Linked DNA regions of Homo sapiens: all the other regions are linked to region 2. The links come from fine-mapping of genetic effects on gene expression. A gene starts in region 2. Each other region holds a variant in brackets. All regions are shown on one strand. Distances are between the middles of the regions. Region 1 holds the start of MIR4750 (microRNA 4750). Region 2 holds the start of SYT3 (synaptotagmin 3). Region 3 has its middle 11 kb from the start of SNAR-A4. Region 4 has its middle 10 kb from the start of SNAR-F.

Evidence for each region.
Region 1: its variant is fine-mapped to the expression of SYT3 in prefrontal cortex (GTEx, PIP above 0.99).
Region 3: its variant is fine-mapped to the expression of SYT3 in prostate (GTEx, PIP above 0.99).
Region 4: its variant is fine-mapped to the expression of SYT3 in aorta (GTEx, PIP above 0.99).

Annotation. Positions count from the first base shown.
Region 1 is chr19:49,885,856-49,893,957 of GRCh38, reverse strand. TBC1D17 (TBC1 domain family member 17) reads right to left here. Exons shown (of 17, transcript NM_024682.3): 14 at 6,385-6,482; 15 at 6,124-6,240; 16 at 5,641-5,727; 17 at 5,208-5,534. The coding sequence ends at 5,334. IL4I1 (interleukin 4 induced 1) reads left to right here. Exons shown (of 8, transcript NM_152899.2): 6 at 2,485-2,553; 7 at 2,851-2,987; 8 at 3,358-4,304. The coding sequence ends at 4,288. It overlaps MIR4750 (microRNA 4750), which reads right to left and starts at 5,783; the gene lies at 5,728-5,783. It overlaps LOC124904743 (a long non-coding RNA gene), which reads left to right and starts at 6,482. Exons shown (of 4, transcript XR_007067293.1): 1 at 6,482-6,764; 2 at 7,195-7,512. RefSeq lists enhancers at 1,876-2,542, 2,543-3,211, 3,212-3,879 and silencers at 3,247-3,436, 3,667-3,836. The variant A/CA (reference allele first, on the strand shown) is at 4,413.
Region 2 is chr19:50,635,837-50,643,938 of GRCh38, reverse strand. SYT3 (synaptotagmin 3) reads left to right here and starts at 4,058. Exons shown (of 11, transcript NM_001160329.2): 1 at 4,058-4,149; 2 at 4,777-4,914; 3 at 6,513-6,675. The coding sequence starts at 6,528. RefSeq lists an enhancer at 4,453-4,747.
Region 3 is chr19:50,077,887-50,085,988 of GRCh38, reverse strand. No RefSeq gene overlaps it. Among named protein-coding and RNA genes, the nearest start is that of SNAR-A4, 11 kb to the left of the region's middle. The variant C/T (reference allele first, on the strand shown) is at 3,178.
Region 4 is chr19:50,611,034-50,619,135 of GRCh38, reverse strand. No RefSeq gene overlaps it. Among named protein-coding and RNA genes, the nearest start is that of SNAR-F, 10 kb to the right of the region's middle. The variant A/C (reference allele first, on the strand shown) is at 4,752.

The DNA of each region.
Region 1 (8,102 bases), 750 kb after region 2:
CTGGAGTGCAATGGCGCCATTTCAGCTCACTGCAACCTCCGCCTCCCAGGTTCAAGCAATTCTCTGCCTCAGCCTCCCGAGTAGCTGGGATTACAGGCGCCCGCCACCACGCCCAGCTAATTTTTGTATTTTTAATAGAGACGGGGTTTCACCATCTTGGCCAGGCTGATCTTGAACTCCTGACCTCGTGATCCACCTGCCTCAGCCTCCCAAAGTGCTGGGATTACAGGCGTGAGCCACTGCCCCCGGCCCCAACTCCCTTCTTTAGCTTCCCCGTAAACACTGCTGACCCCAAAGCTGCATCAGCTTTTGGCCTCTTCCCCTTTCACCCACACACTGTCCTGGATAACCTCCCCAGTCTCCACCTCTGGCTTAAACATAGATCCATGGGCTGATGGAGACATCTGCCTCCCGAGACCCTGATCTGTGTCCCTCCCCAGGACACTGGGCTCAGAAGCTTCCCCTAAACCTGTTCCTCCTCCCGGTGCCCCCATCTCACGATGGCCCCACCATCCCGCAGTCACGGGCAGACCCCTAGGAGCCATCCTCCTCCTGACCTCCTCCTCGCCCACCTCCCCCACCATCAGTGCCCACCCCTGCCGCCTGACGCTTGTGCCCTGCTCCCCTCTGCCTGCCCCAGCTCAGGCCTCCTCCTCTGCCCTGGACCCTCCCCCAGCCTCCTCTCAAGCTGCCCAGGCTCTAGTCTCCCCAGCCTGGTACCAGAAACGTCTTCCCACACACCCAGAGTGATGCTGCTCACAGCCCCCAGTGGCTCCCCGCTGCCTCCAGGACAAAGTCTGATCTTTTCAGGCTCAGCTTTGAGCCCTGACTGGCCTTCCCTTCTGCACCCCTCCAGCCTCATGCTCTTTTCTCCTCTAAGAAATTTTTGTCCTCATGGTGGTCCACATGCCCCCAGCTCTGTGTTCCTCACACCCACTATACCTGTGTATCACCCTCCCTTTCCAGAATGCCTTTCCCTTCCCCACACAGGAACTCCTGCTCAGCCCTCAAGAACTAGCTCCAATGTCCCCTCCTCCAGGAAGCCTTCCCTGATACCTTTAGGGAGGAACTGGCCACACCCAACATCCCCTCCCCACCCAGGTCAGAGCCCACTTGCCCATCTCCCCTTCTAGACCAGGATGGGGGCCATGTCCAGGTCATTTCTATGCCTTGACACTGACTGGTTTGGGAGTCTGAGAGATGCGAGATGCATGAGTGAGTGAAGGGGCACTGCCTTCCCTCTGAGGTCCTGGCCAGAAGGGGGAAGCCAGGTGGACCAAGAAGAAGGCTGAAATTAGATGGGGGCAGCAAGGCTTCTGGGAGGGGGTGAGATTCGAACAAAGTGCTGAAGAACACGCACTCATGTGCCACGCAAAGACAGGCAGGGAAACAATAGGTGCCAGATGTGTAGGTGGGAGAGCCCTGAGGGCAGGTGGTCTGGGCACTGTACACTGTTCACAGAACCAGAGCTGCCATAAAAGACATGGACTGAGGTAAGTGGGGATCTTGGTTCTGCTGAGATTCAGGGCAAAGAGAGTGACCATGAGGCCTTCCCCAGAGAGTCAGAAGGCGGGTACCTGGCACGCAGTGGCTCACGCCTGTAATCCCAGCACTTTGGGAGGCCGAGGCAGGCAGATCACTTGAGGTCAGGAGTTCGAGACCAGCCTGACCAACATGATGAAACCCTGTCTCTACTAAAAATGCAAAAATGAGCCAGGTGTGGTGGCAGGCGCCTGTAATCCCAGCTACTTGGGAGGGTGAGGTGGGAGAATCACTTGAACCTGGGAGGCAGAGGTTTCAGTGAGCTGAGATGGCGCCACTGCACTCCAGCCTGGGCAACAGAGCGACACTCCATCTCAAAAAAAAAAAAAAAAAAAAAAGACATTGAGGGGCTAGCAGGGGCCTTGAACATGAGGCTGAGGGGCAAGAATTCTGTGGCTCCAGGCACTGGGGAGCTACAGGAGGGCTGTGGGCAGGGGACGGACGGTAGATAAACTTCTCAGCCATCATGCCCTGTCAGCACTGACCAGTGGCACAGGGGACCAGCTTCTGTCCGTGGCCACAGTGATTCAGGCAACAAATAATCACTGAGCCCCCGGGAGGACACAGCACGCCTGGGACCCTCTCCCAGTCTCCTCTCCAGCTGCCCACATCCCTGCCTCCATGGAGCTCACAGTCTGGCTGGCTGGCTGAAAAATAGGCAAAATAACACGCAACCGGGATGAGCTGTGACCAGCCGGGCCAGCCGAATGAGGGGGGATGGGCGGCGTTAACAGTTCGGTAATATCGGAGGAGCAGTGGCATCTGAGTTGCCGTGGAGGGCAAGGCGGAGGGCATGGTGTGGGCAAAAGCCCAGGGGCTTGAGAGTGGTGAATGGCCAGCCGTGGGCAGAACCACGAGGAGAAGCCGAGTGTGGGCTCCAGGCCCGGCCTCCACCCTGGCTGCCCGGGCAGCTCAGCACCATGTCTGCTTCTTCCACAACAGGCCCTCAAAGACCTCAAGGCACTGGGCTGCAGAAAGGCGATGAAGAAGTTTGAAAGGCACACGCTCTTGGTAAGTGGGGATCTTGGTTCTGCTGAGATGCAGGGCAAAGAGAGTGACCATGAGGCCTTCCCCAGAGAGTCAGAAGGCGGGTACCTGGCACCCTAGTCCTGCCACCGCCTTCCTGCCTGACCCGGGGGCTGGACACGCCCCCTGTCTGGACCTCCGTTTCCCTCATCTGTCAGAGAGTGGGGACAGGATCCTACGGTCCAAGGACATGTCATGGGACCAGGAGGCCCAGCTGCGGAGGGGCTCTCTCAGGGGTGCAGCCTGCCTGGGCCCTAACCTCGGCCTGTGCCCAACCTGCAGGAATATCTTCTCGGGGAGGGGAACCTGAGCCGGCCGGCCGTGCAGCTTCTGGGAGACGTGATGTCCGAGGATGGCTTCTTCTATCTCAGCTTCGCCGAGGCCCTCCGGGCCCACAGCTGCCTCAGCGACAGACTCCAGTAAGGGGCGGGGCTGGCGGGCAGGGGGGGGGGGCGGGGGGCAATCAGGGAAAGTAGCAGGGAGTGGGAGGAGCCTCTGGGTCTGGGGGCGGGGCTGTTGTGAAGGGCGTGGCCTAATTGATGGTCGCGGGGCTAAGGGTTCCCAGATAAAGGACACGGCCTAGGGGAGAAGTGGTGGGGTCCCTGGTGACACAATCCACTACTCCTGCGGCCTTTGGGATGTCAGGGACGGGCGGGGTCGGGAGAGGTGGATGACGGGGGAGCGGGCCGGTGCCCATAAGGGCCAGCTGCCGGGGTGGGTGGGGCAAGGCAGAGGGGCAGGGCCGCAGAGCCCAGGTCACGCCCCCACCCCGCCCCGCCCCGCCTGCAGGTACAGCCGCATCGTGGGTGGCTGGGACCTGCTGCCGCGCGCGCTGCTGAGCTCGCTGTCCGGGCTTGTGCTGTTGAACGCGCCCGTGGTGGCGATGACCCAGGGACCGCACGATGTGCACGTGCAGATCGAGACCTCTCCCCCGGCGCGGAATCTGAAGGTGCTGAAGGCCGACGTGGTGCTGCTGACGGCGAGCGGACCGGCGGTGAAGCGCATCACCTTCTCGCCGCCGCTGCCCCGCCACATGCAGGAGGCGCTGCGGAGGCTGCACTACGTGCCGGCCACCAAGGTGTTCCTAAGCTTCCGCAGGCCCTTCTGGCGCGAGGAGCACATTGAAGGCGGCCACTCAAACACCGATCGCCCGTCGCGCATGATTTTCTACCCGCCGCCGCGCGAGGGCGCGCTGCTGCTGGCCTCGTACACGTGGTCGGACGCGGCGGCAGCGTTCGCCGGCTTGAGCCGGGAAGAGGCGTTGCGCTTGGCGCTCGACGACGTGGCGGCATTGCACGGGCCTGTCGTGCGCCAGCTCTGGGACGGCACCGGCGTCGTCAAGCGTTGGGCGGAGGACCAGCACAGCCAGGGTGGCTTTGTGGTACAGCCGCCGGCGCTCTGGCAAACCGAAAAGGATGACTGGACGGTCCCTTATGGCCGCATCTACTTTGCCGGCGAGCACACCGCCTACCCGCACGGCTGGGTGGAGACGGCGGTCAAGTCGGCGCTGCGCGCCGCCATCAAGATCAACAGCCGGAAGGGGCCTGCATCGGACACGGCCAGCCCCGAGGGGCACGCATCTGACATGGAGGGGCAGGGGCATGTGCATGGGGTGGCCAGCAGCCCCTCGCATGACCTGGCAAAGGAAGAAGGCAGCCACCCTCCAGTCCAAGGCCAGTTATCTCTCCAAAACACGACCCACACGAGGACCTCGCATTAAAGTATTTTCGGAAAAAGCCGTGTGGTCCAGCCTCCCCCGTGGCTCAGTTACTTCCCCAGTTTGCCTGCATCGGAACCACTAGCCCTGCAGTTAGCAGGCGCCACGCCCATCCTGGAGCCCCCCC[A/CA]AAAATCTGCCCCTCACTTCTTCCTGGACAGTGGGGCTCCAGAGGAGGGTGGGGGGTGGTGCGCACAGAGGGAACCGGAAGGACGCCCTGCACCACCGGGAAATGGCAATCACAGCGACCACCTCTGTCACGAGGCTGAAGTCCAGATGGGCCCTAATGCAAGTAACAGAAAGCCCAGCTGACAGTGGCTGAACAGGAGGTGATTTTTCTCACAAGCAGCAGCTGGGAGGGCAGGCTCCCCAGAGTGCATCTCTGCAGGCCCTTCCACCTTGGTTATGTCCGGGAAGTGTTCCCACACAGCTACCAGGTCGCCGCCACAGCCCAGAGCACCCTATCCTCTTCCAAAAACCCCAAATCAGGCCGGGCGCGGTGGCTCACGCCTGTAATACCAGCACTTTGGGAGGCCAAGGCAGGCAGATCACCTGAGGTCGGGAGTTCAAGACCAGCCTGGGCAACATGGTGGAACCCCATCTCTACCAAAATTACAAAAATCAGCCGGGTGTGGTGGCACACGCCTGTAGTCCCAGCTACTCAGGAGGCTGAGGCAGGGTAATTGCTTGAACCCGGGAGGCGGAGGCTGCAGTTAGCCGAGATCTGCCACTGCACTCCAGCCTGGGCGACAGAGCAAGACTCCATCTCATAAAACAAACAAACAAAAAAACAAATCAGGCAACTCAGGAAGCCCTGCCTCCACAAACCCCAATCATTCACCCTAGGCTCTGCCCAGCCACCATCCCCTCCTCAACCAGGTCAGAGCCCACTTGGCAGCCTTCCCCCCACCAACAAGAAGCCAACTGCACATGAGAAGTGTCAGTTTAATGAAGCCAGCTTATCAGCAGGGCGGCGGAGCACACCTGCCCCCTCGCAGGTGTGCCTGGCTCGGGCTAAAGTGCCTGTGCAGAACGAGGCTGCCTGGCGGGGTTAGGAGTCGGCGCCCTCGTCCTCCTCCTCGGGCAGGATCTCCAGGCTGCTGTCGGGCTGCGGGGCTGTGTCCGTGGAGGGCGGCGGGGTGGGCGGGGCCCGGGTGGGCGACAGAGGCAGCGGGGAGGCGGTGGGCGAGGGGCTGTGGGGCTCTGCGGGCGGGGCCAGCCCCAGGATCTCCTGCACGTTGTGGGGCAGCTCCTGGAGGCACGGGATGAGAGAAGCGAAAAGCGGAAGGTGAAGGTGAGAAGGGGGCGGGGGTCGGTCGGGGTTCGGGCGGGGCGCTGCGGGGCGGACGGGGACTCACGGGGCAGGCGGTTAGCTGGCGGTGCAGGGCCTCGGCGCGGGTCAGCACGTCCTCCACGCTCAGCTTCATAGTCAGCTCGTTGATGTGCTGCGGGAGGGGGTGGGTCAGGCGCCAGTCGGCACTCAACCACCTCCGCCCGAGCGCCCACTCTGTGCTTCGTGCTGGGAAACAATGAAGACACACCGGGCTGGCCCTCTGGGGGCTCAGAAGTGCGCTGGGCGAGACATGCTTCTCAGGCCTCCGGGAGCATTCTGAGCACGTACTCGGGGAGGGAAGGTCCCCACCCACCTGCCCGGAGGACCTTGCTGGGAGCAGGCATGGCATGGGGCAGAAGGGAAACCTACGCGGCCCCACCCCCACTGCGCTCCCAACTAACCAGGCTTTCAATAATCCCACACTAAACACCTGCTCCCCGGAGGTACTGCGGCCCTGGGCAGCGCCCAGCTCAGGGGGGACAGGGCGGGGGCGGGGCCGGAGCCTCACCTTGAGGATCTCATTGGAGCCGAAGCCGGACAGCATGAGGGTGTCCCTCTCCATGTCCAGGATGGCGCAGGCCACCAGCAGGTGCAGATTGGGGCCAGGGAGCCCTGTCCACAGCACCTGAGGGTGCGGGACAGAGGGAGGGAGGGAGGTCATAGCCCAGCCTGGGCCTGAGGTCCCACCAGGGTCTGTCCCTCTCCGCCCAACCTCCCAGGGCAGGTGAGCCCACCCCTTCAGGCCTCTCGCCCAAACTGGCTGGCCCACCTCCCACAGCCGAAGGACATCCGGGAAGGGGAATTCCCTCTTGAACCAGATGAGCAGCCACCGGAAACAGAAGCAGAGAGAGCCGGAGTCCTGGGAATCTGGGGGATGACATGGAGCCCACTCAGCCTTGCCCAGCGCTGGGACTGAGAGTTTGAGAAGTCATCCTGACTGGAAGACCTTCCCCAAGTCTAGGCAAGTGACTTATGCCTGGCTGGGGAACCTCGGAGGTGAGGCAGGAGCAGCCCTGAACGCGGGCCCTGCCCCTCCTTCCTCCCACTCTCCAGAGGAAGTGTGCTATTATACTTCCACATCTGCCATGGACATGGAAGGGAGGCAGGACGCCCAGCACGCCCGACGAAACAGACCTCTGCCCGCTGCTGGTGAGCGCTAAGGGAACTGACACTCCTAGATACGCTGTAGCAAAAATTTAAGCTGAAGGCCGGGTGCGATGGCGCACGCCTGTAACCCCAGCACTTTGGGAGGGTGAGGCGGGTGGATCACCTGAGGTCAGGAGTTCGAGACCAGCCAGGCCAACATGGTAAAACCCCATCTCTACTAAAAATACAGCCTGGCCAACGTGGTGAAACCCCATCTCTACTAAAAATACAAAAATTAGCTGGGATGGTGCCACACCCCTGTAATTCCAGCTCCTTGGGAGGCTGAGGCAGGAGAATCGCTTGAACCCGGGAGGTGGAGGTTGTAGTGAGCCGAGATCACACCACTGCACTCCAGCCTGGGTAACAGAGCGAGACTCCATCTCAAAAAGAAAAAAAAAATTAAGCTGGTGTTGAACCTTTTTTTCCCCCCAAGTTAACTCAAATGAAAGTGAGAGTCTGAGCATTCTAACCTTTGAGGAAAGTAACAACGGAGGACAAACTCTCCAAAGCTGTGTGAAAACAAGCACTGTCCTGAACAAAATTCCACTTCTTGGAAGTGAACCTAAAGAAGAAATTACCCAGACTATGCACCGTGATGAAAAACTGCAAAGGACCCGAATCTCCAGCAGGTCAAGTTACATCAAATCTACCACATCTTGCAGGTGGACACAATGCCGCGCAGTCAAGAAAAGTGATGTTTCAGAAGACTTTGAATGACCCAGAGGCAGCCTCTGTCCTTGTGCCCTAGGAGGTGATGCTTTTCTATGGCTTAGTTTCCTCATCAGTAAGGTGAGGACAGAGTATCTCAGCTCCCTCCCCCGGGGGTCCTAAAGCATCGAGGAAATGTTCATGAATAAGTTTAACTTATTATCATCACCATCTGCACTCAAGAAAAACAATGATATCAAACAGCAACTTTAACTTTCTTTTTTCTTTTTTTTTGAGACAAAGTCTCGCTCTGTCGCCCAGGCTGGAATGCAGTGGTGCAACCTTGGCTCAAGTGATTCTCCTGTCTCAGCCTCCTGAGTAGCTGGGATTACAGGTGCTCGCCACCACCCCCGGCTAATTTTTGTATTTTTAGTAGAGACGGGGTTTCACCATGTTGGCCAGGCTGGTCTCGAACTCCTGACCTCAGGTGATCTGCCTATCTTGGCCTCCCAAAGTGCTGGATTACAGGCGTGAGCCACCACACCCGACCTTTTTTTTTTTTTTTTTTTTTTTTGAGGCAAGGTCTCACTCTGTTGCCCAGGCTGGAGTGCAATGGCACAATCTCTGCTCACTGCTACCTCCCCCACTCCAGTTCGAGTGATTCTTGTGCCTCAGCCGATCCCAACAGCTGGG
Region 2 (8,102 bases):
CATCCTTCTGAGCTCAGCTGAAAAGTCACTTGCTCAGGAACTTCTCTGACCTCTCTCAAACACACAGCACAATGGATGTTCCTTCCTAGCATTGATCCTAGTATGAGGATCCTAGTATGTGTAGTTATTTGATTATTTTCTGTCTCTTCCACTAGACCATGAGCTCTTCCAACCCTGGAATTTTAGTCTATTTTGTTCCCAGATGAATCCCTGCTGTCTAAAAAAAAAAATGCCTGGCACACATTAGGTGCTCAGAAAGTATTTCTCAAATGACTGCATGAATCGAGTTGAATGAATATGGAAGATTCTATCTCTGTCTCCTGGCTCCCTGTCCGGTGTTCTTTATATTGTTCTATACTCCTAGCAGCAGTAGCATGCAAGTCCTCAAATGGGTCCTAGATGCAAACAGCATGGTGGCTAAAGGCAAGGGCTCTGGATTCAGATCCACTCCGTTTTTTGTTTTTTCTTTTTGTGTTTTGAGACAAGGTCTCACTCTGACATCCAGGCTGGAGTGCAGTGGCACGATCATGGCTCACTGCACTCCAGCCTGGATGTAAACGCACATCCATCCGGGGGGATGCAAGAAGGCACAAGGACGGGACTCTGGGCAGCCTCCATTTCCCCACAGCCTCGACTTCTGGGGCTCAAGCAATCCTCCCACCTCAGCCTCCCCCCAAGCAGGTGGGACTACAGGTGTGTGCCACCATGCCCGGCTAAATTTTGTATTTTTTGTAGAAATGAGGTCTCACTATGTTGTCCAGGCAAGTCTCAACTCCTGAGCTCAAAGGATCCTCTCACCTTTGGCCTCCCAAAGTGCTGGGATTACAGGTGTGAGCCACTGCACTTGGTCCAGACCCATACAGTTTTTAATCTCCACTCACACTTTCCAGATGTGTGATCTTGGGCAGAGCGCTTCCCTTGGTGAGCCTCAATTTCCTCACTTGTCAAGTCCAGCTAAAGTTTAAATGAGCAAATGCATTTAATTTTTATTTATGACAACACTAAACACTAGCCATTTTTCCTAAGCACCTTCCATGAATTTAATTTAACCCTCAAAATAACCCAGTGAGATACAATATGATTTTTTCTTTCTTTCTTTTTTTTGAGACAGAGTTTCACTCTTGTTGCCCAGGCTGGAGTGCAATGGCATGATCTTGGCTCACTGCAGCCTCTGCCTCCTGGGTTCAAGTGATTCTCCTGCTTCAGCCTCCCAAGTAGCTGAGATTACAGGCATGTGCCACCACGCCCGGCTAATTTTTGTATTTTTAGTAGAGACGGGGTTTCTCCATGTTGGTCAGGCTGGTCTCAAACTCCCGACCTCAGGTGATCTGCCAGCCTCGGCCTCCCAAAGTGCTGGGATTACAGGCATGTGCCACTGCACCCAGCCAGAGTATGATTTTTTAAAGTATTATTATCTGCACTTACAGAGAGGGAAACTGAGGCATGGAGAATCTAAGTAACCCCTCCAAGGTTGCATAGAGAGGGGAGCAGAGCTGGGATTTGAATCCCAGTGCTCTGCCCCCAAAGTCACACAGAAAACCAGTGCACTACGGCTGCCTCTCAATGCCTGGGCAGCCTCGGAATCCGAGCGTCTCTTTGGAAACGTGTCATGGCAGCGTGGCAAGCCCATCTGTGTGCCCATCTCTGAGTGTGTGCATCACTGCGTGTCTCTCCCTGTGGAACAGGGCTACCTGTGGACCCTGGGCAGGCCCAGCAGGGTTCAAGGGTCGGGCTGTTAGAGTTGGCATGGGGACCTGCACTCGTGGTCTGTAGGTTTACACCCGCACATGCTTCCCTGGATGTAAACACACATCCATCTGGGGGGATGCAAGAAGCCACAAGGAAGAGACTCGGCAAACCTGGGAGGCATTTCTGGGGGTTCTGTGGTAGTATAATGGCTGCAAAATGTACACATAGGCAGCAATAGGGGTAGGGTGTAATCTAATTAGAGGGAGGGCCCAGGATGCGTGCTTAAAGTTGTATTTGCAGAAGCAGCAAGCAATTTTTACTTTTATTTACTTACTTATTTTGACATTTTTATTTCTTGCTCTAAATATTTATTTATTTATTCATATTTATGTTTATTTTTGAGACAGGGTCTCACTCTGTCGCCCAGGCTGGAGCCCAGTGGCACAATCTTGGCTCACTGACTGCAACCTCCACCTTCTGGGTTCAAGTGATCCTTCTGCCTCAGCCCCCCAAGTAGCTAGGACTACAGGCATGCATCACCACACCCAGCTAATTTTTGTATTTTTTGTAGAGACAGGGTTTTGCCATGTTGCCCAGGCTGGTCTTGAACTCCTGAGCTCAAGTGATCCGCCCACTTGGCCTCCCAAAGTGCTAGGATTACAGGCATGAGCCACCGCACCTGGCTATTTATTCTTGAGATGGGGGTCTTGCTTTGTTGCCCAGGCTGGATGGAATGCAGTGGTGCAATCATAGCTCACTGCAGCCTCAAAATCCTGGGCTAGGCCGGGCGCGGTGGCTCACGTCTGTAATCCCAGCACTTTGGGAGGCCGAGGCGGGTGGATCACAAGGTCAGGAGATCGAGACCACGGTGAAACCCCGTCTTTACTAAAAATACAAAAAAAATTAGCCGGGCACGGTGGCAGGCGCCTGTAGTCCCAGCTACTCAGGAGGCTGAGGCAGGAGAATGGAGTGAACCCGGGAGGCGGAGCTTTCAGTGAGCCCAGATCGCGCCACTACACTCCAGCCTGGGCGACAGAGCAAGACTCTGTCTCACAAAAAAAAAAAAAAAAAAAAAAAAAAATTCCTGGGCTCCAGCAATCCTCCCACCTCAGCCTCCTGCGTAGGTGGGACTACAGGTGCACGCCACCACACCCACTAGTTTGGTTTTGTTTTGGTTTTTTGGTTTTTTTGTTTTGTAGAGATGGAGTCTCCTACGTTGTCCAGGATAGTCTCAAACTCCTGGCTTCAAGGGATCCTCCCACTTCAGCCTCCCAAAGTGTTGGGATTTACAGGTGTCAGCCCAGCCTTTGATTTTTACCTAGAGGTTGTATTTATTTGGATGTCACTGATTGAGAGCACTGAGGGGGCCTCCGAGCCACCTCTCCAGGCTATGTAGATCTAGATCAAGCTTGTCCAACCCATGGCCTGAGGCCCGCATGCAGCACAGGACAGCTTTGAATGCGGCACAACACAAATTTGTAAACTTTCTTAAAACATTATGAGATTTTTTTGTGATTTTTTTTTTCTCATCAGCTATTGTTACTGTTAGTGTATTTTATGTGTAGCCCAAGACAACAATGCAGTCCAGGGAAGCCAAAAGATTGGACACCCCTGATCTAGACCTTACCCAAGGGATTTAACCTCCATGGGCCTCAGTTGTCTCCTCTGTGAAATGGGAATGTCATAATTGCACCCAAGTGAAAATTAAATGAGAAAACGCTTTCAAAGCACTTAGCACTTCACCACTTATAGGAAATGACAATTGCCATTAACTGCTATTAATATACCAGAAACTGTTACTCACTACTTTTGAGAAATATTCATTAAGTACCTAGTTGGTACCAATGTTTTGTCTACACTGACCGGTTTTTCAAACTGTGGATCCCTTAGGAAATAAGTTTATGGTGTGTATTTTGCTGATGAGGAAACGGGGCCTCAGAGCAAGAGGCGCACACAGGCAGGAGTTGGCCCAGGTGGGATTCAAACCCAGGTCCCTGCTAGTACCTCTATCCTGGCTGTGGCACTGTACCTTTGAGTCTCAGCTTCCGCTCCTACCACCGGCCTTCAGAGCGGCTCAGGTTGGAGGGCCTGAAGTCCTGGGTTCCTGGGAAGAGGGGCCTGGGGTCCCCGGACTTCTACCTCTGTGAGATAGCGGGGCGGAGAACTGGGCCCCCGGACCCTGGAGAAGCAGCACGTCGTGATCCTAGATCTCTGGGTCCCCAGTGTGGAAACCCACTGGGTCTCTGCTGCCTTAGTCCCGGGCAATCTCCCTGCTTCCTTGCTGAGGCCAAGTGATTTCGGCTTTCTTGCCGCGGGTTCGGAGTGGGGGAAGGAGGGGGTGCAGGGGGAGGAGCCGCGGACCTGCGACAGTGGCGAGGGGAGGAGCCGAGCCGGCACCGCGGCTGGCGCGCGGGGCTGCGGCGGCGGCGGCGGCGGCAGCGGCGGCAGCGGCGGCTCCGGGTGAGTCCGCTCCTCCCCCTCCTCCTGCCACAGCCCCAGCCCCAGTCAAATCCCTGGGGTCGGCCCCGGCGCATGGGGGCGGGGTAGATGCAGAGGCGCGTGGATCTCGGGCCGGGGAGTGGGAGCGCTGCAGCGCTCTCTGGCCACCCCGGGGGAGGGGCACGTGGCCCTGGAAGGGGGTCCCGAAACACCTGGGTGTATCCCACCCCTCGCCCACCGATCCCCAGCGCGGGGGGATCGTTTCCTCATTCCGTGGCCCCTAAGGACTTAGGGCTCCGTGGCTTTTCGAAGTCCCGGACATCGTTCCCCTCCCCTGAAGCGTCTTGGGACCCCAGCATCTTAACCCCCCAAAACCTTAAAAAAAAAAAAAAAATCCCATCCTCTCTGCAGCCCGGAGGCATTAAGGACTTCAACTCCCAGCAGATCCTGCAGCGCCGGGTCTATGAAGCCGCAGCAGCGCGAGCGCGAGACCTGCCGGGAATTGTAGTCTCTAAGCCCTCAACGGGAGCTGGGGGCCCGGAGGTGGGAGGGGGTGGCCGGGCTCCCAGTGGGTCGCCTGGGGTCGGGCAGCTGGCTCGAGTAGGGCAAGATGTGACTGTTAAGCTGAGCTTTTTCTCCCGGCCTCAGCCCCTAGATCAGACATTCTCTCTCATTACCCGGCGCGTGGGAACGGGTCCACAGCCCCTTGTCCGCCCTAGAACCCCCATGGGCTGCCGCCCGCCGCCGCCTCGGCTGCCACCCAGGACACGGCAGAGATAAGCGCAGGTGAGTGTGGCCATGCCTGTCTTGGAGTCCTGGCCTTCTGCAGCACCCCCACGACACCTGTCCATCTGTGAGCCCTGGTCTGTCTGTTCCTAATTCCCCTGCATCCCCTTCAACCCATCTTGATGCCTGGCTCCGAGCCATGTGTCACTAATTCCCCCTCTCCCCACATCCACCTCTCCTTCCTAGCCTCCTCTCATTTATGTGCTCATTGAACCTTCCCTTATGAACCCATGTCTGTCTGCCCAGCCCTCCTGTCTCCTTTTGTCTATCTGCGATCTCTAGCCATCATCTGCTGTCCTTGCCCACCCATCCATCCTCCCGTTCGACCGTTTCTCTTTCAAAGATATTTCTGCCCACACTCCTGCCTGCCCCTCTTCACCGTCTCTCGTCCTCTCGTCTCTCAAGCCCCCGTGAATTAATTACATCTCGGTTCATTCCTTGTCACTGTCCATCCCAAGTCTCAATCCTTGACTTTCCTTCTGCCTGCCTGTTCACCTCTCCATCTCTTCGGAGCCTCAGTCTGCCCTTCACATTATCTCTGTCTCCCCTCCCTGTATCTCTCCCTCCCTCAACTTGGTCCCCATCTCTGCATCTCCACCTCTCCACCCCCAGCTCCCACCATACCTATCCACCTCCAATCTCTCTACCCACATCCATCCTTCTCTCCTGGCCCTCCCCGCGTCTACCCCAGTCTGGCCTCCTTGGTCCCTGGACCCTCCAACTGCTTTCCTACCCTAAGCCCCTGTCATCCTGCTCCTACTGTCTAAAATGCTTTTCTTTAAAATGCTTTTCCCATCCTGGCGCCACTGCCCCCCGCCTGTGGCTGGCTCCATGTCATCCTTCAGGTTTGGGAGAGCCCTCCCTGACCGCCCCCCTCTGAGTTCCTTTGTGACACATTCTCCAGCTGTGTCCTGTGGAGCGCTTCTCACAGACAGTCTGACAGTGACCGGTTTGTGTATGTGTTTTTGTTTGCTTGTTTACTCTATGTCTCCTCTCGTTGGATTGTGACACCGGGAGGTCAGGGAACTCCAGGACCTTGTTCTCTGCTGGATTCGCAGCAACCAGCACAGCACGTAGGGCGTAGTTGGTGCTGGATGGATGTTTGTTGAATGAATGAATGATGAATGGCTGGCACCTTGTCTGCTCATCCCTAACTCCTGTTCCTTCATCTGTGCAGCCCTAATCTTTGTTTCCTCATCTGTCCATCCCTTTATTTGTGCATCCTCATTCTTAGCCCCTTCACTGCCCTTCTCCATCTCTTCCTCCTTGTTCATTTGTCCCTGTTCTCTGTCCTCTACTCCACTCATGCCCATCTCTGTCCCCTTGACTTACCCAGTCCCTGCTACTATCTCCATCCCTAATTTCTGCCCTCTTGTCTGTCTACTCCTAATTCCTTTTCCTTGTCCATCCCTAATACCTGTCACCTTGTCCTTCTTCCTCGAATCTCCATCCCTAATCCATCTGCCCCTAATCTCTGTCCCCTTTGCCCATCCTTCCTTTTCTCGGTGTCTCTTTCCACCCTTATCTCCACACCTGCCCACCCTGCACTCCCATTCTGTTTCCCATCTGCACCCTTGCCCCATCCCTCCCACACACAGGACCAGACGGCCACCATGTCAGGAGACTACGAGGATGACCTCTGCCGGCGGGCACTCATCCTGGTCTCGGACCTCTGTGCGCGGGTCCGAGATGCTGACACCAACGACAGGTGCCAGGAGTTCAATGACCGAATCCGAGGCTATCCCCGGGGTCCAGATGCAGGTCAGCACCCCTGCCTGTCTTGGCCAGCCCCCTGCTTGCACTATGGCCAGGAGACTCGGAGCAGAACTGCTCAGCTTTCCATTGCTTGTGGGGTCAGTCCCTCGTAGCGTCTTGCCCCCATTCTGCCTGCTGCTGCCCTTCTCCCAAATCTCTGATCCAAGGGGAAGGAGCTGTGTGGTCTGCTTTTTGAGTTTTGCCCTGTGGGCCTCCCTCCGACTACCACCACCAAATGCCCCCTTCAGATATCTCTCTGCATCTTGTGCAAATGTCAGGCTCTTGAGTCAGACTGACTTGTTTGGGTTCAAGTCCCATCTCCCTCACTTTATTAATAACTGCATGGCTGTAGGTAAGTGACTCTTCTTCTGGGACTCAGTCTCCTCATCTGGAAAATGGGGATAATAAAAGGGATGCTTCATAGAGCAGATGAAAGACTTAAATGATATAACACCTACGAAGAACTTAGAACAATGCTGGGATTCACTTACTGAGCACCAACTGTGGTCCAGGCAGCATGCGAGGTCCTCTGCACATCTCAATGATTACTCACAGTGACCCTTTGTGGAACATATAATCCCCATTTTCAACAGAGGAAACTGAGGCTGAGAAGGGTGAAGTGACCTGTCCAAGGTCACACAGCTAGAAAGCAGCAGGGTTCTGGGAATGAGGAAACATTATGAGTGCCATTGTCCAGATGAGGAAACGGTGACCAGAGGAAGCATGTGCTGAGTGATTACAACCACAGTCACACTTGCTGAGCACCAGGGCAGGGTCTGGCACCTCATGTGCAGGATGTCCAGGTGACAGTCATGAGGGATAAGGCCGAGAGAGCAGCAGTCACTTGCCCAGAGGCTCAATGGTAGCAGAGGCAGAACTGAATCCTGCATAGTCTAGTACAGCACTGTAGTCTGGAGGTGCCCATGACCACCCTCAGGTTCAATGATTTGCTAGAATCATTGACTCACAGAACTCAGGAAACTGTTTTTGTTTGTCTGTCTGTTTGTTTTTGAGATGGAGTTTCACTCTTGTTGCCCAGGCTGGAGTGTAATTAATGGTGGGATCTCGGCTCACTGCATCCTCCACCTCCCAGGTTCAAGTGATTCTCCTGCCTCAGCCTCCAGAGTAGCTAGGATTACAGGCGTCTGCCACCACGCCCAGTTAATTTTTTGTATTTTCAGTAGAGACAGGGTTTCATCCTGTTCGCCAGGCTGGTCTCGAACTCCTGACCTCAAGTGATCCACCCGCCCCAGCCTCCCAAAGTGCTGGGATTACAGGCATGAGCCACCACGCCTGGCTGGAAACTGTTATACTCATGGTTATGGTTTATGACAGTGAAAGGATACAGACTGAAGTCAGCAAAGGGAAGAGGCACCCAGGGCAGAGTCCAGGACAGACCAGGTGTGAGCTTCCAGTCATCCTCTCCCAGTGGA
Region 3 (8,102 bases), 560 kb after region 2:
GGTTAGGAGCTGGAGACCGGCCTGGCCAACACAGCGAAATCCCGTCTCCACCAAAAAAATACGAAAACCAGTCAGGCGTGGCGGCGTGTGCCTGCAATGGCAGGCACTTGGCAGGCTGAGGCAGGAGAATCAGGCAGGGAGGTTGCGTGAGCCGAGATGGCAGCAGTACAGTCCAGCTTCGGCTCGGCATCAGAGGGAGACCGTGGAAAGAGAGGGAGAGGGAGACTGTGGAAAGAGAGGGAGAGGGAGACCGTGGGGAGATGGGAGAGGGAGAGGGAGAGGGAGAGGGAGATGGAGAGGGAGCGGGTTGTTTGTTTTCTTATTGTTAAGTTTTAGTTCTTTGTATACCAGCTTTCTTTTCTCTTTTTCTTTTTCTTTCTTTCTTTTCTTTTTTTTCAGACAAGGTCTTGCTCTGTTGCCCAGGCTGGAGTGCAATGGCGCAATCTTAGCTCACTGCCACCTCCGCCTCCCAGGTTCAAGTGATTCTCTTGCTTCAGCCTCCCGAGTAGCTGGGATTACAGGCACCCACCACCATGCCAGGCTAATTTTTGTATTTTTAGTAGAGACAGGGTTTTGCCACGTTGGCCAGGCTGCTCTCAAACTCCTGACCTCAGGTGATCCGCCCACCTCAGCCTCTCAAAATGCTGGGATTACAGATGTGAGCCACCACACCTGGCCTGGATACCAGCTTTTTGTCTGATAGGTGTTTTGAAAAGATTTTCTCACAATCTATAGCTTCTCTTTTTATTCTCTTAAACATCTGATTTTCCTATCACTCCTCTCCATGCAAAATATACATTTTTTGACTGGATCTTGCCAGGGATCTCAGAGTGAGAACAAGAGTCAGACCTGGCCAACCTGAGTACTTCATGACCTTGGTTATGATGTGCAGTAGTTTGGATGTATGTCCCATCCAATTTTTTTTTTTTTTTTTTGAGACAGAGTTTTGCTTTGTCACCCAGGCTGGAGTGCAGTTGCACAATCTTGGCTCAGTGCAACCTCCACCTCCTGGGTTCAAGTGACCCTTCTGCCTCCGCCTCCTGAGTAGCTGGGATTATAGGCACATGCCACGCCCGGCTAATTTTTGTATTTTTAGGAGAGACGGGGTTTCCCCGTGTTGGCCAGGCTGCCTTCTAAATTTCGTTCTTGAAATTGGATCCCCAATGTTGGAGATGGGGTCCTAATGAGAGGTGTTTGGGTCACAGGGGTGGACCCCTCACAAATAGATTAATGCCCTCCCTGGGAGTGTGGGTGAGTGAGTTCTTCCTCCATTAGTTCCCATTAGAGTTGGTTGTTAAAGAGAGGCTGACACTTGCCTCTCTTGCTTCCTCTATTGTCACATGATCCCTGCTTTCTTTCTCCTTCCACCAAGAGTGGAAGTAGCTCTAGACTTTCTCTGTATGCCCAATCTTCCAGCCAGCAGAATCATAAGCCAAATACACCTTTTTCTCTTTATAAATTACCCAGCCTCGTGGATCACTTTAGGTCAGGAGTTCGAGACCAGCCTGGCTAACATGGTGAAACCCTGTCTCTACTAAAAATACAAAAAATTAGCCAGGTGTGGTGGCGGGCACCTGTCATACCAGCTACACTGGAGGCAGGAGAATCACTTGTACCTGGGAGGCGGACATTGTAGTGAGCCAAGATTGCGCCACTGCACTCCAGCCTAGGTGACAGAGCAAGATCCTGTCTCAAAAAAAAAATAATAAAATAAAATAAAAATTACCCAGCGTCAGGTTTTCCTTTATAGCAAGACAACATGGACTAAGACACATGGTTACTATAGAAATGGACATGTGACCCAAGTTGGGCCAATGAGAGCTAACCTTGAGACTTTGGTATCACCATTCAGGAAGGCAGTACCCCTTTTCTGCTAGGTTGTTAAAATGATAAGCTAGGTTGTTAAAATGATAGTATGGAAGCTTCGAGCTGCTGTGGGCCCTGTTTGTCACCGTGAGGGAAGAGATTCTGCCTGAGAGGGAAGTCAAGATACAGAAAAGTAAAGCCCAGATGGGAAATGAGCGGTATTGCTAAAGATTCATTTTAGTGCCTGGATCCAGTTATGCCTGAAGCTAGTTATATAGCTCGGTTCTATAAGTCAACAAATTCCCTTTGTCAAAAACAAAAAAAGCCAGAGTACTTTCCAGAGAGCAAGGCTTATTATAATAATAATTAAAGCAGCATACTCTTGCAAGGAAAAACAAATAGACCAAAAGAACAAGACGGAAAAATCAGGAAAAGTTCACACATATACGGTAACTTGGTTTATGACAAAAGCAACATTTCAGTGCAGTGAGAAGCAAAAGATGATCTTTTTGGATAAATAGGGCTGAGCCAGTTGATAACCATATGACCTCTACCTCACACCATACACAAAAATTGATTCCAGATGTGTTGTAGATCTAAATGTTAAAGCTTAAACAATAAAACTTCTAGAAGAAAATATCATAGAGTATCTTCAGAACCTTCAGGGTAAGAAAATATTTCTTTTATTTACTTGTTTGTGTTAATAGAGATAGGGTCTCGCTATGTTGCCCAGGCTGGTCTCGAACTCCTAGGCTCATATGATCCTCCCTCCTCAGCCTCCCAAAGTGCTGAGATTACAGGCATGAGCCAGTGTGCCTGGCCAGAAAATATTTCTTAAACCAGAAACAAAGGAGCCTTAACTATAAAGGAAAATGTTGATAAATTGGACTATATTAAAATAGAAACTGATCCTCATCAAAAAATACCATTAAGAGAATGAAAAGACAAGCCAGAGAGTGGGAGAAGAATATGTATTCTAACAAAAGACTCATAAGAAAAATAAAGAAATAACTCCTACTAACCTGTTTTTTAAAAAAGGCAGAAAAACCAGTCGAAAAATGGACGAATGGCGTGAATTGACATTTCACAAAGTAGCATGTTCATATGCCCAATAAATATTTGAAACAGTGTTAAATTTCTTTCTTATTTTTTTTTTGAGACGGAGTCTCGCTCTGTCTCCCAGGCTGGAGTGCAGTGGCGTGATCTTGGCTCACTGCAAGCTCCGCCTTCTGGGTTCACGCCATTCTCCTGCCTCAGCCTCCTGAGTAGCTGGGACTACAGGCACCCGCCACTGCGCCCAGCTAATTTTTTGTATTTTTAGTAGAGACGGGGTTTCACCGTGGTCTCGATCTCCTGACCTCGTGATCCACC[C/T]GCCTCGGCCTCCCAAAGTGCTGGGATTATAGGCATGAGCCACTGCGCCTGGCCCAAAACGGTGTTAAATTTCTTTAGGCATTGGGCTAAAGGTAAATTAAAACCATAATAAAACACGGCTACAGCCCCACCAGAATTGCTAAAATTGAAAGGACTAACAATACCAAATGTTGGCGAGCAGCTGAAATTCTCAGAGACTGCTGGCGGGTGTATAAATGGAGAAAATTAGTTTGAAAACCTGGTTGGCAGTGTCTATTAAGGATGAACATGAAGCTGGGAATGGTGACTCATGCCTGTAATTCCAACACTTTGGGAGGCGGCGGATCACTTGAGGTCACGACCAGCCTGGCCACTCCCATCTCAAAAAAAAAAAAAAAAAGAGGAACATGCCCACACCATGCATACACCCTGGGACCCAGCAATTACACTTCTAGGTATATACCCAACAGAAATACAGAAATGCCTACATATGTTCACCAAAATTCAATGTATATAGCAGTACTGTAAGTGATCATGCCAAATCAGAAGGCACCTAAATGTCAATCAACAGTAGAATGGATACATAGATTATTATGTATTCCCATAACACACTTTTTTTTTTGAGACAAGATTGTCCTCTGTCACCCAGGCTGTAGTGCAGTGGTGTGATCTCAGCTCACTGCAATTTCTGCCTCCCAAGCTCAAGCCATCCTCCCACCTCAGCTTCCCAAGTAGCTGAGATGATAGGCACGCACCACCACACCCCACTAATTTTTGTATTTTTTTTGTAGAGACGGGGTCTTGCTATGTTGCTCAGGCTGGTCTTGAACTCCTGTGCTCAAGATATCTGCTTGCCTCACCCTCCTAAAGTGCTAGGATTATAGGCATGAGCCACCGTGCCTGGCTCATAACACACTCTTATACAGCAATGATAATGAACAACCTCCAACAATCAGCAACTACATGGACAAATCTCATAGACGTATGATGAATAAAACAATTCAGGCCAGGTGCAATGGCTCACGCCTGTAATTCCAACACTTTGGGAGGCCGAGATGGGCAGATCACGAGGTCAAGAAATAGAAACCATCCTGGCCAACATGGTGAAACCCTGTCTCTACTAAAAATACAAAAAATTAGCTGGGTGTGGTAGTGCGCACCTGTAATCCCAGCTACTCAGGAGGCTGAGGCAGGAGAATCGTTTGAACCTGGGAGGCGAAGGTTGCAGTGAGCTGAGATCATGCCACTGCACTCCAGCCTGGTGACAGAGCGACTCTCCGTCTCAAAAAAAAAAAAAAAAAAAAAAAAGAATTCCAACACACAAGTCTCTATGCTTGTAGGATTCCAAGCAGATTAAGATCAAAAACAAGGCAAACTGACTTATGGTGTCAGAAATCAGGGTAGTAGTTACCTTTGAGGTGAAGAAGTGACTGACAAGGGGCCGGGCGCGGTGGCTCACGCCTGTAATCCCAGCACTTTGGGAGGCCGAGGTGGGCAGATCATGAGGTCAGGAGATCGAGACCATCCTGGCTAACACGGTGAAACCCCGTCTCTACTAAAAATACAAAAAAATTAGCCAGGCATAGTGGCAGGCGCCTGTAGTCCCGGCTACTCGGGAGGCCGAGGCAGGAGAATGGCGTGAACCCAGGAGGCGGAGCTTGCAGTGAGCCGAGATAGCGCCACTGCACTCCAGGCGAGACTCTGTCTCAAAAAAAAAAAAAAAACACAAAAAAGTGACTGACAAGGAGCATGAGGGGTTTGGAGAGCTGGTAATGTTCTAGTTCCTGACCCAGGGCTGGTTACCCATGGTTACATGGTGTGCTCAGTCTGTCATCTGATCCATACTTACTGGGTATTTGTGAGTTTCTTTGTGAGTATGTTGTACTTCAATAATTTTTTTTTTGAAACTGGGTCTCTGTCGTCCAGACTGGACTGCAGTGGCTCAACCATGGCTCACTGCAGCCTTGACCTCCTGGGCTCAAGCGATCCTCCCACCTTAGCCTCTTGAGTAGCTGGGACTACAGGTGCACACCATGGCACTTGGCTATATATATATATATATATATATATATTTTTTTTTTTTTTTTTTTAAAGAGATGGAGTCTTGCTATGTTGCCAAGGCTGGGTCTCGAACTCCTGGGCTCTAGTGATCCTCCAATCTTAGCCTCTCAAAGTGCTGGAATTACAGGCATGAGCCACCGAGCTTGGCAATAATTTTTTAAAAGGCCGGTTTTTTGTCTCTTGAAAGTGCAGGAGTCTTGGCAAGTCTAGCAAATGGCATATACTATTTTGTTTCTCTTCCCTCCCCTTTCAAGTGAGAATTGTGATTGTTTTCTTGTTTTTCCTCCACTGTTATACACAGGGGTGGGTTGCTGAGGGGGCTACAATTTCATTTAACATTAATTTTTTTTTTAGATGGAGTCTTGCTCTGTCACCAGGCTGGAGTGCAGTGGCACAATCTCCACTGACTGCAACCTCCGCCTCCCAGGTTCAAGTGATTCTTCTGCCTCGGCCTCCCGAGTAGCTGGGATTATAGGTGTGTGCCACCATGCCGGGCTAATTTTTGTACTTTTAGTAGAGACAGGGTTTCACCATGCTGGCCAGGCTGGTCTTGAACTCCTGACCTCAGGTGATCCACTTGCCTTGGCCTCCCAAAGTGCTGGGATTACAGGTGTGAGCTACCGTGCCCAGCCTTAACATTAATTTTCAGGATCAAGAGAGACTCCATGTGCCCTTGATGAAAGGAATAGCCAATATCCAGAAATCTTGGTCTGAGGATTGGATGTGGCTTTGGGATCCCTCCCTTTGCAGAAGGGGTGAAAGCTTCTGCAGTTGCACTAGAGATAGTTATGTTAGGTGGGAGTATTAGTTTTAGCCAACTTTATCAAAATATAATTTGTGTACAAGAAAATGGATCAATATTTCAAAAAGATATTTGCAACCCACTTTCATAGCAGCATTATTTACAATACCCAAAAGGTAAAGGAGGCAACCCAGCTGTTCATCAACAAATAAATGGTTCGACAAAATGTGGTATATACACATAATGGATTTTTTTTTTGAGATGGAGTCTCGCTCTGTCGCCCAGGCTAGAGTGCAGTGGTGCGATCTTGGCTCACTGCAACCTCCGCCTCCCAGGTTTAAGTGATTCCCCTGCCTCAGCCTCCCAAGTAGCTGGGACTACAGGCGCCTGCCACCACGCCCGGCTAATTTTTTGTAGTTTAGTAGAGATGGGGTTTCACCATGTTGACCAGGATGGTCTCGATTTCCTGACCTCGTGATCCGCCTGCCTCTTCCTCCCAAAGTGCTGGGATTACAGGTGTGAGCCACTGCACCAGGCCCATAATGGAAAATTATTTAACCTTAAAAAGGAAGGAAATGCTAACACATGCTACAACATGGGTGAAGCCTGAGGACATTCATGCTAAGTGAAACAATCCCATCACAAAAAGACAGATGCTGTATGATTCCACTTACATGAGGTACCTAGAGTAGTCAAATTCATAGGGAATTTCCCAGAGAGTAGAACGTGCTTCCCAGGGGCTGGGAAGGGAAGGCAGTGGGAGTTGCTTGATGGGAACAGTTTCAATTCTACAAGAGGAAAGAGTGGAGATGAGTAGGGGTGATGATTGCACAACAATGCAACTGTACACTTAAAATTGGCTAAGTCCTGGGAAAGTGGCTCATGCCTGTAATCTCAGCTACTCTGGAAGCTGAGGCAGGAGAATCGCTTGAACCGGGGAAGCAGAGGTTGCAGTGAGCCAAGACCATGCCATTGCACTCCAGCCTGGGCATTGCAGCGAGACTCCGTCTCAAAAAAAAAAAAAATTGGCTAAGATGGTAAAGTTTGTGTTATGTGTATTTTGCAACAATGTACAAGAATTTAAATGAACCAATTTTAAACGCAATGAATTTTGACAAATGTATTCGGTTGTGTGATCACTTCCATCATCCGGAAAGTTTTCCTGTGTCCACTAGTAATCAGTCTCTCCATAACCACTGCCACTGCCCCCAGTCAACCACTAATCCATTTTCTGCCCCTGCGTATTAGCCTTTTCTTTTCTCTTTTCTTCTCTTCTCTTCTTTTCTTTTCTTTTACTCTGTCACCCAGGCTGGAGTTCAGTGGTGTGATCTCAGCTCACTACAACCTCCGCCTCCCAGGTTCAAGCCATTCTCCTGCCTCAGCCTTCCAAGTAGCTGGGATTACAGGCACTCGCTACCACACCCGGTTAATTTTTGTATTTTTAGTAGAGATGGGGTTTTACCATGTTGGCCAGGCTGGTCTTGAACTCCTGACCTCGTGATCCACCTGCCTCGGCCTCCCAAAGTGCTGGGATTACAGGGTGAGCCACCGTGCCTGGCCTCTGGCCCCTTTCTTTCTTTCTTTCTTTCTTTCTTTCTTTCTTTCTTTCTTTCTTTCTTTCTTTCTTTCTTTGTGTCTCTCTCTCCTTCCTTCCTTCTCTCTCTCTCTCTCTCTTTCTTTCTTTCTCTCTTTCTTTTTTGAGTTGGAGTCTCACTCTGTTGCCCAGGCTGGAGTGCAGTGGCATGATCGGCCCACTGCAACCTCCGCCTCCCGATTCTCCTACTCAGCCTCCCAGGTAGCTGGGATTACAGGTGCCAGGCTGCTTTTGAACTCCTGATCTCAAGTAATCCGCCTGCCTCAGCCTCCCAAAGTGCTAGGATTACAGGCGTGAGCCACCATGCCCCGCCCATATTAGTGTTTTCTTTCTACAATTTCACAAAAGTGGAATCCTACAGCATATACCCTTGTATCTGGCTGTATCACACGGCATCATGTTTTTGAGATGCAGGGCAGCAGTGCCATCACAGCTCACTGCAGCCTCAAACTCCTGGGCTCAAGTGATCCTCCTGCCTCAGCCACCAGAGTAGCTGGGACTACAGGTGAGCACCATCATGCCTGGATAATTTTACTATTATTATTATTA
Region 4 (8,102 bases), 25 kb after region 2:
GCAGGAGAATGGCTTGAACCTGGGAGGCGGAGGTTGTAGTGAGCTGAGATCACACCACTGAACTCCAGCCTGGGTGACAGAGTAAAAGAAAAGAAAAGAAGAGAAGAGAAGAAAAGAGAAAAGAAAAGGCTAATACGCAGGGGCAGAAAATGGATTAGTGGTTGACTGGGGGCAGTGGCAGTGGTTATGGAGAGACTGATTACTAGTGGACACAGGGAAACTTTCCGGATGATGGAAGTGATCACACAACCGAATACATTTGTCAAAATTCATTGCGCTTAAAATTGGTTCATTTAAATTCTTGTACATTGTTGCAAAATACACATAACACAAACTTTATCATCTTAGCCAATTTTTTTTTTTTGAGACGGAGTCTCGCTGCAATGCCCAGGCTGGAGTGCAATGGCATGATCTTGGCTCACTGCAACCTCCACTTCCCCGGTTCAAGCGATTCTCCTGCCTCAGCTTCCAGAGTAGCTGAGATTACAGGCATGAGCCACCTCCCCAGGACTTAGCCAATTTTAAGTGTACAGTTGCATTGTTGTGCAATCATCACCCCTACTCATCTCCACTCTTTCCTCTTGTAGAATTGAAACTGTTCCCATCAAGCAACTCCCACTGCCTTCCCTTCCCAGCCCCTGGGAAGCACGTTCTACTCTCTGGGAAATTCCCTATGAATTTGACTACTCTAGGTACCTCATGTAAGTGGAATCATACAGCATCTGTCTTTTTGTGATGGGATTGTTTCACTTAGCATGAATGTCCTCAGGCTTCACCCATGTTGTAGCATGTGTTAGCATTTCCTTCCTTTTTAAGGTTAAATAATTTTCCATTATGGGCCAGGCACAGTGACTCACACCTGTAATCCCAGCACTTTGGGAGGAAGAGGCAGGCGGATCACGAGGTCAGGAGATCGAGACCATCCTGGTCAACATGGTGAAACCCCATCTCTACTAAACTACAAAAAATTAGCCGGGCGTGGTGGCAGGCGCCTATAGTCCCAGCTACTCGGGAGGCTGAGGCAGGGGAATCACTTAAACCTGGGAGGCGGAGGTTGCAGTGAGCCAAGATCGCACCCCTGCACTCTAGCCTGGGCGACAGAGCGAGACTCCATCTCAAAAAAAAAAATCCATTATGTGTATATACCACATTTTGTCGAACCATTTATTTGTTGATGAACAGCTGGGTTGCCTCCTTCACCTTTTGGGTATTGTAAATAATGCTGCTATGAAAGTGTGTTGCAAATATCTTTTTGAAATATTGATACATTTTCTTGTACACAAATTATATTTTGATAAAGTTGGCTAAAACTAATACTCCCACCTAACATAACTATCTCTAGTGCAACTGCAGAAGCTTTCACCCCTTCTGCAAAGGGAGGGATCCCAAAGCCACATCCAATCCTCAGACCAAGATTTCTGGATATTGGCTATTCCTTTCATCAAGGGCACATGGAGTCTCTCTTGATCCTGAAAATTAATGTTAAGGCTGGGCACGGTAGCTCACACCTGTAATCCCAGCACTTTGGGAGGCCAAGGCAAGTGGATCACCTGAGGTCAGGAGTTCAAGACCAGCCTGGCCAGCATGGTGAAACCCTGTCTCTACTAAAAGTACAAAAATTAGCCCGGCATGGTGGCACACACCTATAATCCCAGCTACTCGGGAGGCCGAGGCAGAAGAATCACTTGAACCTGGGAGGCGGAGGTTGCAGTCAGCGGAGATTGTGCCACTGCACTCCAGCCTGGTGACAGAGCAAGACTCCATCTAAAAAAAAAATTAATGTTAAATGAAATTGTAGCCCCCTCAGCAACCCACCCCTGTGTATAACAGTGGAGGAAAAACAAGAAAACAATCACAATTCTCACTTGAAAGGGGAGGGAAGAGAAACAAAATAGTATATGCCATTTGCTGGACTTGCCAAGACTCCTCCACTTTCAAGAGACAAAAAACTGGCCTTTTAAAAAATTATTGCCAAGCTCGGTGGCTCATGCCTGTAATCCCAGCACTTTGAGAGGCTAAGATGGGAGGATCACTAGAGCCCAGGAGTTCGAGACCCAGCCTTGGCAACATAGCAAGACTCCATCTCTTTAAATATATATATATATATAAATAGCCAAGTGCCATGGTGTGCACCTGTAGTCCCAGCTACTCAGGTGGGAGGATCGCTTGAGCCCAGGAGGTCAAGGCTGCAGTGAGCCATGGTTGAGCCACTGCAGTCCAGTCTGGATGACAGAGACCCAGTTTCAAAAAAACAATTATTGAAGTACAACATACTCACAAAGAAACTCACAAATACCCAGTAAGTATGGATCAGATAACAGACTGAGCACACCATGTAACCATGGGTAACCAGCCCTGGGTCAGGAACTAGAACATTACCAGCTCTCCAAACCCCTCATGCTCCTTGTCAGTCACTTTTTTGTGTTTTTTTTTTTTTTGAGACAGAGTCTCGCCTGGAGTGCAGTGGCGCTATCTCGGCTCACTGCAAGCTCCGCCTCCTGGGTTCACGCCATTCTCCTGCCTCGGCCTCCCGAGTAGCCGGGACTACAGGCGCCTGCCACTATGCATGGCTAATTTTTTTGTATTTTTAGTAGAGACGGGGTTTCACCGTGTTAGCCAGGATGGTCTCGATCTCCTGACCTCATGATCTGCCCACCTCGGCCTCCCAAAGTGCTGGGATTACAAGCGTAAGCCACCGCGCCCGGCCCCTTGTCAGTCACTTCTTTACCTCAAAAGTAACTACTACCCTGATTTCTGACACCATAAGTTAGTTTGCCTTGTTTTTTATCTTAATCTGCTTGGAATCCTACAAGCATAGAGACTTGTGTGTTGGAATTCTCTCTTTTTTTTTTTTTTTTTTTTTTGAGACGGAGAGTCGCTCTGTCACCAGGCTGGAGTGCAGTGGCATGATCTCAGCTCACTGCAACCTTCGCCTCCCAGGTTCAAACGATTCTCCTGCCTCAGCCTCCTGAGTAGCTGGGATTACAGGTGCGCACTACCACACCCGGCTAATTTTTTGTATTTTTAGTAGAGACAGGGTTTCACCATGTTGGCCAGGATGGTTTCTATTTCTTGACCTTGTGATCTGCCCATCTCGGCCTCCCAGAGTGTTGGAATTACAGGCGTGAGCCATTGCACCTGGCCTGAATTGTTTTATTCATCATACGTCTATGAGATTTGTCCATGTAGTTGCTGATTGTTGGAGGTTGTTCATTGTCATTGCTGTATAAGAGTGTGTTATGAGCCAGGCATGGTGGCTCATGCCTATAATCCTAGCACTTTAGGAGGGTGAGGCAAGCAGATAGCTTGAGCACAGGAGTTCAAGACCAGCCTGAGCAACATAGCAAGACCCCGTCTCTACAAAAAAAATACAAAAATTAGTGGGGTGTGGTGGTGCGTGCCTGTCATCTCAGCTACTTGGGAAGCTGAGGTGGGAGGATGGCTTGAGCTTGGGAGGCAGAAATTGCAGTGAGCTGAGATCACACCACTGCACTACAGCCTGGGTGACAGAGGACAATCTTGTCTCAAAAAAAAAAAAGTGTGTTATGGGAATACATAATAATCTATGTATCCATTCTACTGTTGATTGACATTTAGGTGCCTTCTGATTTGGCATGATCACTTATAGTACTGCTATATACATTGAATTTTGGTGAACATATGTAGGCATTTCTGTATTTCTGTTGGGTATATACCTAGAAGTGTAATTGCTGGGTCCCAGGGTGTATACATGGTGTGTGCATGTTCATCTTTTTTTTTTTTTTGAGATGGGAGTGGCCAGGCTGGTCTTGACCTCAGGTGATCTGCCGCCTCCCGAAGTGTTGGAATTACAGGCGTGAGTCACCATTCCCAGCTTCATGTTCATCCTTCATAGACACTGCCAACCAGGTTTTCAAACTAATTTTCTCCATTTATACACCCACTAGCAGTCTCTGAGAATTTCAGTTGCTCGCCAACATTTGGTATTGTTAGTCCTTTCAATTTTAGCAATTCTGGTGGGGCTGTAGCCGTGTTTTATTATGGTTTTAATTTACCTTTAGCCCAATGCCTAAAGAAATTTAACACCGTTTCGGGCCAGGCGCAGTGGCTCATGCCTGTAATCCCAGCACTTTGGGAGGCCGAGGCGGGTGGATCACGAGGTCAGGAGATCGAGACCACGGTGAAACCCCGTCTCTACTAAAAATACAAAAAATTAGCTGGGCGCGGTGGCGGGTGCCTGTAGTCCCAGCTACTCAGGAGGCTGAGGCAGGAGAATGGCGTGAACCCGGAAGGCGGAGCTTGCAGTGAGCCAAGATCACGCCACTGCACTCCAGCCTGGGAGACAGAGCGAGACTCAGTCTCAAAAAAAAAAAAAAATAGAAAGAAATTTAACACCATTTCAAATATTAATTGGCCATATGAATATGCTACTTTGTGAAATGTCAATTCACGCCATTTGTCCACTTTTTGACTGGTTTTTCTGCCTTTTTTAAAAAACAGGTTAGTAGTTCTTTCTTTATTTTTCTTATGAGTCTTTTGTTAGAATACATATTCTTCTCCCACTCTCTGGCTTCTCTTTTCATTCTCTTAGTGGTATTTTTTGATAAGGATCAGTTTCTATTTTAATATAGTCCAATTTATCAACATTTTCCTTTATAGTTAAGGCTCCTTTGTTTCTGGTTTAAGAAATATTTTCTGGCCAGGCACACTGGCTCATGCCTGTAATCTCAGCACTTTGGGAGGCTGAGGAGGGAGGATCACATGAGCCTAGG[A/C]GTTCGAGACCAGCCTGGGCAACATAGCGAGACCCTATCTCTATTAACACAAACAAGTAAATAAAAGAAATATTTTCTTACCCTGAAGGTTCTGAAGATACTCTATGATATTTTCTTCTAGAAGTTTTATTGTTTAAGCTTTAACATTTAGATCTACAACACATCTGGAATCAATTTTTGTGTATGGTGTGAGGTAGAGGTCATATGGCTATCAACTGGCTCAGCCCTATTGATTCAAAAAGATCATCTTTTGCTTCTCACTGCACTGAAATGTTGCTTTTGTCATAAACCAAGTTACCATATATGTGTGAACTTTTCCTGATTTTTCCGTCTTGTTCTTTTGGCCTATTTGTTTTTCCTCGCAAGAGTATGCTGCTTTAATTATTATTATAATAAGCCTTGCTCTCTGGAAAGTACTCTGGCTTTTTTTTGTTTTTAACAAAGGGAATTTGTTGACTTATAGAACCGAGCTGTATAACTAGCTTCAGGCATAACTGGATCCAGGCACTAAAATGAATCTTTAGCAATACAGCTCATTTCCCATCTGGGCTTTACTTTTCTGTATCTTGACTTTCCTCTCAGGCAGAATCTCTTCCCTCACGGTGACAAACAGGGCCCACAGCAGCTCAAAGTTTCCATACTATCATTTTAACAACCTAGCAGAAAAGAGGTACTGCTTTCCTGAATGGTGATACCAAAGTCTCAAGGTTAGCTCTCATTGGTCCAACTTGGGTCACATGTCCATTTCTATAGTAACCATGTGTCTTAGTCCATGTTGTCTTGCTATAAAGGAAAACCTGACGCTGGGTAATTTTTATTTTTATTTATTTATTTTTTTTTTTTGAGACAGGATCTTGCTCTGTCACCCAGGCTAGAGTGCAGTGGTGCAATCTTGGCTCACTACAATGTCCGCCTCCCAGGTACAAGTGATTCTCCTGCCTCCAGTGTAGCTGGTATGACAGGTGCCCGCCACCACACCTGGCTAATTTTTTGTATTTTTAGTAGAGACAGGGTTTCACCGTGTTAGCCAGGCTGGTCTCGAACGCCTGACCTAAAGTGATCCACGAGGCTGGGTAATTTATAAAGAGAAAAAGGTGTATTTGGCTTATGATTCTTCTGGCTGGAAGATTGGGCATACAGAGAAAGTCTTGAGCTGCTTCTACTCTTGGTGGAAGGAGAAAGAAAGCAGGGATCACGTGACAATAGAGGAAGCAAGAGAGGCAAGTGTCAGCCTCTCTTTAACAACCAACTCTAATGGGAACTAATGGAGGAAGAACTCACTCACCCACACTCCCAGGGAGGGCATTAATCTATTTGTGAGGGGTCCACCCCTGTGACCCAAACACCTCTCATTAGGACCCCATCTCCAACATTGGGGATCAAATTTCAACAACGAAATTTAGAAGGCAGCCTGGCCAACACGGGAAAACCCCGTCTCTCCTAAAAATACAAAAATTAGCCGGGCGTGGCATGTGCCTGTAATCCCAGCTACTCAGGAGGCGGAGGCAGAAGGGTCACTTGAACCCAGGAGGTGGAGGTTGCACTGAGCCAAGATTGTGCAACTGCACTCCAGCCTGGGTGACAAAGCAAAACTCTGTCTCAAAAAAAAAAAAAAAAAAAATTGGATGGGACATACATCCAAACTACTGCACATCATAACCAAGGTCATGAAGCACTCAGATTGGCCAGGTCTGACTCTTGTTCTCACTCTGAAATCCCTGGCAAGATCCAGTTAAAAAATGTATATTTTGCATGGGGAGGAGTGATAGGAAAATCAGATGTTTAAGAGAACAAAAAGAGAAGCTATAGATTGTGAGAAAATCTTTTCAAAACACCTTTCAGACAAAAAGCTGGTATCCAGGCCAGGTGTGGTGGCTCACATCTGTAATCCCAGCATTTTGAGAGGCCGAGGTGGGCGGATCACCTGAGGTCAGGAGTTTGAGACCAGCCTGGCCAACGTGGCAAAATGCTGTCTCTACTAAAAATACAAAAATTAGCCAGTCATGGTGGTGGGCGCCTGTAATCCCAGCTACTCGGGAGTCTGAAGCAAGAGAATCACTTGAACCTGGGAGGCGGAGGTGGCAGTGAGCTGAGATTGCGCCATTGCACTCCAGCCTGGGCAACAGAGCAAGACTTTGTCTGAAAAAAAAAAAAAGAAAGAAAGAAAAAGAAAAAAGAAAGCTGGTATACAAAGAACTAAAACTCAACAATAGGAAAACAAACAACCCAATTTAAAAATAGGGAACAGATCTGAACAGACACTTCAACAAAGAAGATATGCAGATGGCAAATAAGTAAATAAAAAGATAGTTGGCCAGGTGTGGTGGCTCCCGCTTATAATCCCAACACTTTGGGAGGCTGGGGCAGGAGGATCATTTGAGGCCAAGAGTTTCAGACCAACCTAGGCAACACACTGAGACGCCATCTCTACAAAAAATAAAAATAAAAAGGTCAGATGTGGTGGCTCACACCTGCAATCCCAGCACTTTGGGAGGCCACAGCTGGTAATTCCCTTGAGCTCAGGAGGTCAAGACCAGCCAGGCAACGTGGTGAAACCCCATCTCTACGAAAAATACAAAAAACTAGCCAGGTGTGGTGTTGCACACCTGTGGTCTCAGCTACTTGGAAAGGTGAGGTCGGAGGATCACTTGAGTCTAGGAGGCAGAGGTTGCAGTCAGCAGAGATTCCAGTGCCACTGCATTCCAGCCTGGATGACAGAGCGAGACCCTGTTTCTAAATAAATAAATAAATAAAATAATAAAAATAGAAATAAAAAAATAGCCAGGTGTGACAGCACACAACTGTAGTCCCAGCTACTGGGGAGGCTGAGAAGGAGGATCTAAGAGTTGGAGGCGGCAGTGAGCTATGATTGCACTGCTGTACTCCAGCCTGGGCAACAGAGACCCTGTTTCTTAAAATAAATAAATAAACAAACAAACAAATAAATAAAAGGTACTTGGGCCGGGCGTGGTGGCTCACACCTGTAATCCCAGCACTTTGGGAGGCCAAGGTGGGCAGATCACCTGAGGCGAGGCATTCGAGACCAGCCTGATCGACATGGAGAAACCCCATGTCTACTAAAAATACAAAATTAGCCAGGCGTAGTGGCGCATGCCTGTAATCCCAGCTACTTGGGAGGCTGAGACAGGAGAATCACTTGAACCTGGGAGGCAGAAGTTGCAGTGAGCCGAGATCATGCCATTGCACTTCAGCCTCGGCGACAGAGCAAGACTCCGTCTCCAAAAAAAAGCGGGGCTCAACATCAAATGTCATTAGGAAATTGCAAATTACAGCAACGATGACATACGACAACCACCTATTAGAATGGTGAAAATCCAAAACATGAATAAC